Linked DNA regions of Homo sapiens: region 2 is reported to be linked to region 1. Evidence: microRNA targets listed by miRTarBase, many of them from high-throughput screens and not tested one by one. Region 1 holds a microRNA gene; the other region holds the end of a gene's coding sequence.
The links. Region 1 holds the annotated microRNA hsa-miR-136-3p (CAUCAUCGUCUCAAAUGAGUCU, at 3,144-3,165, opposite strand). A microRNA usually pairs through its seed, bases 2 to 8, with sites in the 3' UTR of a target mRNA and lowers its output. Matches are read on the target gene's strand: a 7mer-m8 pairs with bases 2 to 8, a 7mer-A1 pairs with bases 2 to 7 and ends in A, and an 8mer does both.

Region 2: miRTarBase lists SOX5 as a target of hsa-miR-136-3p. Seed matches in the 3' UTR shown: 7mer-A1 at 2,492-2,498.

The regions. Positions count from the first base shown.
Region 1 is chr14:100,882,741-100,887,914 of GRCh38, reverse strand. MIR136 (microRNA 136) reads right to left here and starts at 3,213; the gene lies at 3,132-3,213. It overlaps RTL1 (retrotransposon Gag like 1), which reads left to right. Exons shown (of 4, transcript NM_001134888.3): 4 at 3,041-5,174. The coding sequence starts at 3,127. It overlaps MIR127 (microRNA 127), which reads right to left and starts at 4,936; the gene lies at 4,840-4,936. MIR432 (microRNA 432) reads right to left here and starts at 3,432; the gene lies at 3,339-3,432. RefSeq lists a silencer at 1,929-2,223.
Region 2 is chr12:23,529,627-23,534,626 of GRCh38, reverse strand. It overlaps SOX5 (SRY-box transcription factor 5), which reads left to right. Exons shown (of 15, transcript NM_006940.6): 15 at 105-5,000. The coding sequence ends at 408. Among named protein-coding and RNA genes, the nearest start is that of SOX5, 420 kb to the left of the region's middle.

The sequences.
Region 1 (5,174 bases):
GGGTCATTTATAGACAAAGCATGTTTTTATAAAAAGAAGTTATATGATTAAATTTACATAGCATGCTAAGAAGTTTGGACACTATTTTGAGGGATGACAGAATTACATTTTTATGCCATGCTAAGGAATTTGGACTTCAGCCATTAAGAGTCTTGTTTTTTTTTTGAGAGGGAATCTCCCTCTGTTGCCCAAGCTGGAGTGCAGCGGCGCAATCTCGGCTCACTGCAACCTCCAAGGTTCAAGCGATTCTCCCGCCTCAGCCTAGGAGAAGTAGCTAGGATTACGGGCATGAGCCACTACTCCCGGCTAATTTTTGTATTTTTAGTAGAAACAGGATTTCACCATGTTGGCCAGGCTGACCTAGAACCCTTGACCTCAAGTGTTCCACCTGCCTTGGCCTCCCAAAGTGCTGGGATTACAGCTGTGAGTCACCGTGCCTGGCTCATTAAGAGATTTTTAAGGCAGTAACATGGCAGAAATTTTGTCTTGGGTAGAGTAGTCAGAGAAATTTTATAGTAAAATGTATTGTTCTATGCTAAAAATAATTAGACCTTATCTCATAGGTAATTAAGAGATAGAATAAAGCTTTAAGCAGAAGTTATAAGAGCAAATTCGTGTATCTTGCAAGGGAGAGTGACCTTTTTATTTTGAGGAATGACATGGTCAGAATTTTATATCATGCGAAGAGGTTTGGAATTAAGCCAATAAAGGGTTTTAGGAGTGACCTGATGAGATTTGGGGGTTCGTATTAATCAGTTGGCAAGTAAATTACACGGTGAAAATTTTCATTTTATGCTAAGTGGTTGAAACTTTACAGGCAATAAAAATGAATTTTTATATGTGTTAAATAGAGAAATTATGAGATGACCTTTATTCATCTTGCTAACAGTTTAAACTTTGATGTTAAGAAGTATTAAGATTTTTCTAACATGCCGAGGATATTAGATTTTGAGCTGAAGGCAGGAACATTGAAGGATTTAATCATTCACATGGTCGAATTTGTAAATATGTTAAGCAGTGTAGACTTTATATTAAGAGGGGGCATAATCTAGTTTTTAAATCGTCTTGCTAAGAAATTTAAATTTTCACCAATAAAGAGTTTTAAGTGAGAGACATGCTGAGATTTTTATTCCTGATAGATAAGTCTGCAGATGAATTACTTAGTTTTTGTATTTCAATTAGAATTATTTATTTGTATTTCAATTAGAATTTTATATTAGAGGTTTGGAATTTTACAGTAATAATGCATATCTCAGAGGACTTTTATGGAGAGGAAATGAGTTAATTTCTGCAATGTGCTATGTACATCATGATGATGATGATGATGATTCTTATAATTCCTATACCATGCTGATTTGTATACTGTGCTTTAAAAAAATGTGATCTCTACCTTGAGGAATGACAAAATAAGAATTTTATATTATATTAAGGCCCTTACATTTTAACCAGAGAATAGTTTTGGTGAGTTTACATGTCAGATATGTTTACGCTAGAAGGTTTGGATTTAATATTGCAGACAGTAAATAAACAGTGGAAGGCTTTAATCAGAGAGACTGCATGATCAAATTTAAGTGTCATGCTAACAAGGGTGTACTTAATTTTGAGAAACAGCAGATCTGAATTTTGTATCCTGTTGGAAAGCTTGGATTTTAGCCAATGAGTTTCACGTAAGGGGGAACGCAGTTTTTTTTTTTTTTTTTACGGATGGGTCCAGTGGCTTAGAAGAAAACTCAGAAGTAACAAAAGGTGTTAAATTTATAAAGAGCAGTAGCTTTACAGTTAATCTATCAGATAATCAAAGCTTAATTTGCTCTGCCCCAGCAGAGAAGAAATGTGCAAATAACCCCAACCAAGACATTCCCTTTCAATTCTGTCTCAGCCCACTAAAACCACCCAACACTAGATTTCCAAAAATCCACTCTGGGACCGTCAGATTCCAAAGATGTCACATGTTCCCCCCAACCCCCACACTCAATGTCCCAACTCTGCCAGATACATGTCTGTTGGGAGGGCTCAACCAGCAACAGAGAGAAAAAGATATTTGCTAGAAAGAGGAGACCAGACCCACTGGCGTTAAGAAGGGGACCTGGGAGGATAAGATTGGAGAGGCGTGCAGATATGCTTGCACTGGTGAAATTGAGGCCAGATGTGTGAAGTTCCAGAAGCCTCACAAAGAGGGCAGTCCTGGGAGAGTGGAGATTGTAGGAAGAGAAGGAGATTATTTGAAGATCTCCTCAACAGCTCAGAGGTCGGGAGAACATAGCATTGGAAGGAGACCAAATCGAGAAAGAGAAATTGGCCAAAAGTCTGAGTTAGAATCAAGTAACAAATATGCAGTTATCCAGCACATAGTAGGTATGTTATAAAATTTATGGAAAAAAAAAAAAAAAACCCAGACCTGTACACACCCCCTGAAATTTCTATTTTGAACATGGGGAAGGAAATAAGAACTATTTTGGGCTGCTGACCCAACTGACGGGACAGTGGCCAAGTGCCCATTTTCTCCTCTTCCACTGCACTGGTGAAACAGTAGGCATCTTTGCTAGAGATTCCCGCTCCACAACCAAGGTGGCTGGGCTTGCTCCAGAGCCCTGAGCCTGCCAGGGGTGGCTTTGGATGGTGCTGAGATGTGACCTCTGTGATTCTCAGGTGACCAAAGCAGGAAAAGAGGATTGACCAGGTGCATGTGCCAGGGGGGAATGGAGCAGCCTGTGCACCCTGCCAGGTACCCGCCTGCCACGGTGGCTGCTCCCAGCCACAGAATTTATGGGCTGTGAATTTCTCACATCTATGGAGGAAAAGGACAGGACAGGCAGACTGAATAAGCCTGGGAGGCAGGTCAGGGGTTGACAGATCTTCCCTCCCTGGGGGCACCCCAAGTGACCAGCCAAAGAGGCTGGCTCGATACAAGAAGGCTTTCCCCCATTTCTCTCTGCTCTGATTAGTTGGGCATCTGATTTGTCCTTGAGACCCTGATACTGCCACTTCACAAGATCCTAAACTACTGCCTTTACTCCCCACACTCCCCTTCCACCACCAGGTTCTGATCTCCACGGTCCCAGCTACTGACTGGACGCCATCACAACCTTACCAATCTTCAGAATACACTCCTTTCCATCCGACGAAATGATAGAACCCTCTGAAGACTCATTTGAGACGATGATGGAGCATAAGAATCCATCATCAAAACAAATGGAGTCCTCCGAGGGCTCATCCAACACCACCGAGGCGACGTCGGGCAGTGGAGTGCGGGGAGAGGCAGGGCCAGCCAGCGGCCCAGCCCAGGAAAAGAAGGAGCCCCCCAGTGGCCCACTCCAGGAAATGGAAGAGCTGCCCACTGATCTACTCCAAGACATGGAGGAGCCATCCAGTGGCCCACGTAAGGAAATAGAGGATCCACCCAATGACCTACTCCAAGACCTGGAGGAGTCATGCAACGGTTCACACCAGGCAAGGGGGGATCCACTCAGTGGAGCATCTGATAGGATGAAAGAAGCATCAGTCAACCCATCGGGAGCCCGAGAAGAACAAGAGGCTCACACTGACCTGAAGGAATCGGGAAGGGAGGAGACTCCTCAAGAGCAAAACCAGACCGAGCACTCAACCGCAGAACTTATGGCCATGGTGAGGTCCATCATCTCGCTGTACTTCCGAATGCAAGACCTCAAAGAGCAACAGAGAGTAGCAGAAGAGATCTTGATCAAAGGGATCAATGCAGGCCAACTGCCCGCCCCAAAGCACTTCTCTGGCGATCGCAGAGAATTCCACGAGTTCATCGTACTCTGCCAACTGACCTTACAGAGCTACCCAAGAATGTTCTATAACGACCGTCTGAGAGTTGGCTATGTCATCAATCACCTGTCCGGCTTGGCATTAGAATGGGCCAAAGCTCTACTGCAGGAAAACAGCCCCCTGATCGGAGACTTCCCAGCCTTCCTGGAGGCCATGTCCGAAGTGTTTGAGTACCGCCAGGCACTGCGTGTGGCAGAAGAGGCCATGTTCACCATCAGGCAGGGCGGCCGCTCTGCCACTGAGTACATCGATGAGTTCCAGAGCCTGGTACCCATCTTGGGCTGGCCAGATGAAGTCCTGCAGGCCCACTTGTGCCAGGGGCTCAACGAGGAGATCAGGCACTATCTATTCCGGGTCCCTCAGCCGGATTCCCTAGACAGTCTGATTGTGCTCATCCTGCAAATAGAAGAGAAGCTGGCAGAGAGAAGAGCTATGCTCAGGCTGCCCCCCGAGGCCCGCCCCCGGAACCTGACCTGGATCGACTCACCTGCTCCAGAGAGGTGGATGGTCAGCAGCTGGTTGCCCAGCGAAGTCCATCCGGACATCAATCGCGCCCACCTCTTCCTGCTGCTCATGGTGAGAGTGAACCCCTACCACAGCGTCGCGGTCCAGGCCCTGGTGGATTCGGGAGCTGACGGCAACTTCATGGATGAGAAGTTCGCCCAAGAGCACTACGTCGAGCTCTACGAGAAGCCGTACCCACAGCCGGTCCAATCCGTGGACGGCTCGCTGATTGGCAACGAGCCTGTCTGGCTCTACACGGAGCCCCTGGTGTGTATCCACCAGAACCACCAGGAGTCCATCGAATTTGACATCGTACCTTCACCGAACTTCTCTGTGGTCCTAGGCATCCGCTGGCTCCGAGTCCACGCCCCCGAAGTCGACTGGATCAAAGGCCGCTGCACCTTCCACTCTCCCTACTGCCTGAAGAACTGCTTCCGCCCGCCCCCGCCATGCATTGCCCTAGAGAGGCACGGCATGAGCCTGCTACCCGGACTGCCACACCCATACTCAGACCTGGCCGACGTGTTTAACCCGAAGGAAGCAGATGATGAGACTTCCGACCAGCCAAGCTCAGACGGATCCGATGATCTTTCTGAATCAGAGCCCTCTGAGCTTCAGCAGGCTGGAGACAGTGATCACAGCGAGACCTTTTACGAGTGTCCCTCCACCGCGCCTTGGGAACCTGTGGGTGCCAGGATGCAAGAAAGAGCCAGGCTACAGGAGGAATACTGGGACCTGCAGGACATGCTGACCAACAGACAGGACTACATACAGATGATTCCGGAACTGTTTGACCAGTTACACGGAGCCGAGTGGTTCACAAAACTGGAGCTGCGTGGGACCATTGTGGAGGAAAGCGTGAACGGGCACCGCACCGA
Region 2 (5,000 bases), not on the chromosome of region 1:
TACCTTAGAATTGGACATTGCTGAGCAAATTAATTATGTAGTAAAGTCCACATCTAACTATTCACTTACCCACGATGTCTTTTTGGAAATTCCTTTCTTGACAGGCAACAAGCACAGATCCCCATTGCCACTGCTGGTGTTGTGTACCCTGGAGCCATCGCCATGGCTGGGATGCCCTCCCCTCACCTGCCCTCGGAGCACTCAAGCGTGTCTAGCAGCCCAGAGCCTGGGATGCCTGTTATCCAGAGCACTTACGGTGTGAAAGGAGAGGAGCCACATATCAAAGAAGAGATACAGGCCGAGGACATCAATGGAGAAATTTATGATGAGTACGACGAGGAAGAGGATGATCCAGATGTAGATTATGGGAGTGACAGTGAAAACCATATTGCAGGACAAGCCAACTGATAAGGGTCAAAAGATTGTTGTGACCTTAGGACTTAAAGAAGCCCTAACTGGTTCATCCTTACCAGTGGCCAAGCACATTAACTTTCTCATACACTGACTGTTACTTTAACTGTTAGTCTTAAATAGTTGGGACATCAGCTGACTAATAGACCTCAGCCTCAAAAGGCTTGGAAAGAAAAAACAAATACAACAAGCAAACAACAATATCAACAACAAGAGATTGAAATAAGCTATGGGTAAAATAATGCCAGTAATTCAGCTGCTACATCCAAGCACTGAAGTCTTACCCGTCAACTTTTTTTTTTTTTTAAATAAACTTTATGGCTGTTTGTTCTACAATGTTCTAGAAATTCTCACTCAGGTACACAGTGCCAACAAGTGGCTTGTGAATGTGTTTTGTTGTTTTGTGCTACAATTTTTAAAAAGAAAAAAGTTTTGTTTTGTTTTTTGGGGTTTCTGGGTTTTTTCCTTTTCTTTTTCTTTCCTTTCATTTTTTTTCTTTGTAATGCACCTGACAGAAAAAAAAGAAAAATGAATTTCTCTTTACTTCTCTCCACCTTCTCCATCTCTCTACTTTAAAGATGGAAGTCTGTGCATGAGGGGAAAGAGGGAAAAAGAGCCTGTTTTTAACTTCCTTGCTATCCACCACAAAATAAGCAATTATTTTCTTTAGAGGACTTTATCTATTGCACACCACACTACATCTTTGAGCAAGTGCCAAATTTGTACTGAAGTGTTGACCAAGTTCATTTTTTCTCTTTACTTTTTCCTTTTCCTTCTTAAGTTAGGACAGTGTTAAATCTTAGACAATCCCTTGAAAAACCTGAAATACCAGCAGCTGGTGAGATTTGACTTTTTTTTTTAATGGAAACTGTAGGTGCTGTTCTCAGGTGAAAAGAGAGAGAGAGAGAGAGACATAAGAAATTTAGAGAAAAATATTTTCTGATCTTGGATTTTTGTGTGTATGTATGTATGTGATTATGGTACTAATAATAGGAATAACGTTGGACCATTGTGAGTTAAACCCACATCTGGGGATGAAATCCCACATCCTCCCAAGTGACTGGTCTAGAAATAATCTTGACCTTGACTTTGCACTTCAAATGACAACTTAACCAAGTATAGGGCTCAGAAATTATATTTTTAAATGTCTGATTATTATTGGATGGATCAGGTGGCCCTGTGTAATAGAGGTGTGCATGTATAACATGGAAGCTACTAGCAAACTGCTCCCAGATGTCCTTTCTCCCTGGTCAGTTGGTTCCATTAACGTTTGCTACTTAGTGATTTTTGTTTTTCCTGTTGATATTTTGAGCAAAACAATCATTGTTTTCATTGAATATATTTGGCCATTTTTTCAGACAAATAGAATTAGCTTATTTCTTCAACATTCCATCCTTTCCCGATCAGGAAATGAAACTGATGATTTTATAAGGTATTTTTCACCCCTCCATGAAGTGAGGTGGAGGCCTTTAGCATTTCAGAAGTGTGGGCCATATGTAGTTCATGCCATAAAAAGTAGGATTTAATTAAAAGTCATTGCAGCCCAATAAAATGGAGCCTGGCTGCACCCAGGGATCCTTGCCACTGCTCTTCCCTTGCTGTCAGATTAATCCACTGAAGTCCAACTTTGGTTCAAGCAGAGTATTTGCAAAGAGCAACAACTGAATGTGATGGGACTGCTTATGTAGATTTTGCCAGCCAAATGCCAAGGCAGTTGTAGGGCCTGTACAAATAAATGCAAAATCATTTCAAGTCAATTGCCATTATTTGTATTGAAGTATCAGATAGATAGTAAATACTGCAACTAGTAGCTTGATGTGCTATAGTTTTCACTCCAGTCATCATTTTCCTATCTCACCCCCCGAAACACCACCCTAAAGTTGGATTTTTACATATAAATAAAAAAAGAATCCCTTTTATTTTTCTCTCTCTCAGAAGACTTGCTCTGGGGTTTTGCTTGGAGGAGCTGATCATATCCTGCATGTCAGAGATTTCATTTTGTTTGTTTTTCTGTTTGTTTGTTTTTGATGACTTTATTTACATTTGAACTGCCTCTTTTTGCTAGTGTTGTAATGATGATGATGATAAAATAATAATAATAATAGTAATAATAATAATAATGGTCAGCTGTTCCCAGATTAGTAAGTTATGTATAATTTATTTTATTTCTCCCTTTCTATTTTATTCTGCTCTGATTTGGAAGTGCAGCCAATAAGCTGTTAGATATTTAAAACAAATTTCCATCTCCAACTCATATATGTATGTATATGTATATATATATATACATATATATACACACATATACACACACACACACACATTTACCCACAATTTTACTTCTCTTTCCGTAAGTTTTCTCTTTTTTAAGAATTTTGGCCCCAACAATATCAGTTCTGATGTTTAAAACAAAGGAGTGAATTAATAGGAGGGTCGTGTTCAATCTTAATTAACTTATGCTCTCATCACTCATTTTAGTTATTTAATTGCCACAGTCATCTAGAGCCAATTTTTTTTTGTTTTTGTTTGTTTTGTTTTTAAGCACTCTGGATAAGGAAAAAATAGACACTTGTTTTTATATCATTTTTATGTACAATGTGAAAACAGATTTTTAAAAAATTTGTTCTCTGTCTTTGTTAACAAATTCCTTCCGATTTATGTGGGTTCACCTCTCACGTTTGCTGGATACTTACTTTACACCATGTTATGAAAGATGCTTTGTTTTCATTTCATGAGTTTGGGCTACAAGAATACTTTGTTTTAGCTCCAGGTAGATGCCATTGAAGGCATTCATGGCTGAAATCAATTCTAACACACTTACCGATGAATTGACAACACTTTGGTGTTTGGTCTTTTTTTTGTTATATTTTGTTTTATTTGAAGGGGAAAACAAAATTGTTAATGGTGACTTTTAACTGCTGAAATTCAAAATTTGATTTTAGTTAGGTTTATGTCCGAGACTAAACTGTGCATGAACCGAAACAAAAAGCAAGTTCATACCGCTGCATTCTGTTCTCTTGTTCTGACGGTTAATTCACTGGACATCAAATTTTCTTTGCCCTAGTTTTCCCCAAAAGAAAACAAAAGCAAAAATAGTTATATTAATGTTGAAAGTGCTTTGAAGTCACTTGATAAAAGGTGCTATGAATAGCAACTTACTGTGTTACTACATTGCCTTTTTGGCATTGGTTGATTTATAATTTTGGTAAAGGATCCTAAAACCCTGTATTCTTTTTCTGTGCCCCATAATGACCAAAAAAGATAAAGAAAATGAGAGTAAGATCAAAAGATCAAACTAAAACATAAACAGTCTCCTTCCTGTCTGCTTTCTTACCTATCTGTTCACACTTTATCTCTTTCCCTTTCTCTCTCTCTCTCACATGCGCGCGCGCGCGCGCGCACACACACACACACACACACTTGCCCCAACACTGAGAAATAATCTTGCCAGAATTCTGGTTTTTATAGTTGTTGTAGTCCGTTTCTCTAAAAATAGTCCTGTTTTCATATGAATCTAAGAGAACATTACCGGAGAAAATAAAGTTACTCATTTATAGTTACTAATAATAAGTTAGTGATTAACTTACCACAATTGGATAAAATATAAAACTATTCTTCAGCACATTTATACCTAAATTAGTGAAGTCCATTTGTGAAGTTCATTTGGCATCTGCAGTTAAGAGTTAACCATGTATAAAATCCCTCCCAAAGAACATAATCATCGTTAGAACCAAATCCTCTTATAAAGAACAAATATAAAAAAGTTTTCTGTGGTGAAGCTATTTTATAGATTTGATTTCCGGAGTAGAATTTTACCTTAATTCACTTAAAGAAAATTAACCATTTTTTGGTCCAACTTCAGATATTTTCTTAATCCAGAAGCTGTGACTGTTCCCAGAAGAAACCTCTTATATCACATTTAAAACATAAAAAATAATTACACTTTCACTCATTCTAATGGGTAAATTGTTGAATTGTAATAAACAACTGTATATTTACAAACAGGTTTATAAGGTATTTGTCTATCAAATTAATAATAAAATAAAACTTACGGGGTCTGCAAGGAAAACTATGAAGGCCACTTAAAGTGGTTCAGGTATCCCTTTGTCTTGTAGGGCATAGCTGTTGGTTTAGCCAGGCTTTTACAGTATTTAATTTTAAAGTATCCTATAACTATCAACTTCCCAGGTTGAAGACGATGTGTTGAGTTTCCTACTGATTGATTGATTCCTGTCCTCCCCAGTGTTTCCGTCACTGGTTCACTAAAACAGTATTTATATAGCTCCACTGGCTCTAAAGCTCTTAGTCCTTCTAATATTTTGGATTTTACAAGTAAAAATGGAAAAAAAATAGAAAAGAGACAATCAAATGCCTGGAGCTTAAAACAAAGTATGTGCAACCTACCATCTCACTTGAAATTTAATAAAATAATAAGTAATTATGTAAATATAACATAGAGTTATAGATTTATATTTTGTTCATAACACATAGTGTAATATAAGTTGTATATTTTCATGTTTTTGGTTTTATGTTATCATTCATGCCACAATAAAAATAAAACAGGAGTTTATGTGCTCTTAAAAAAAAGATGT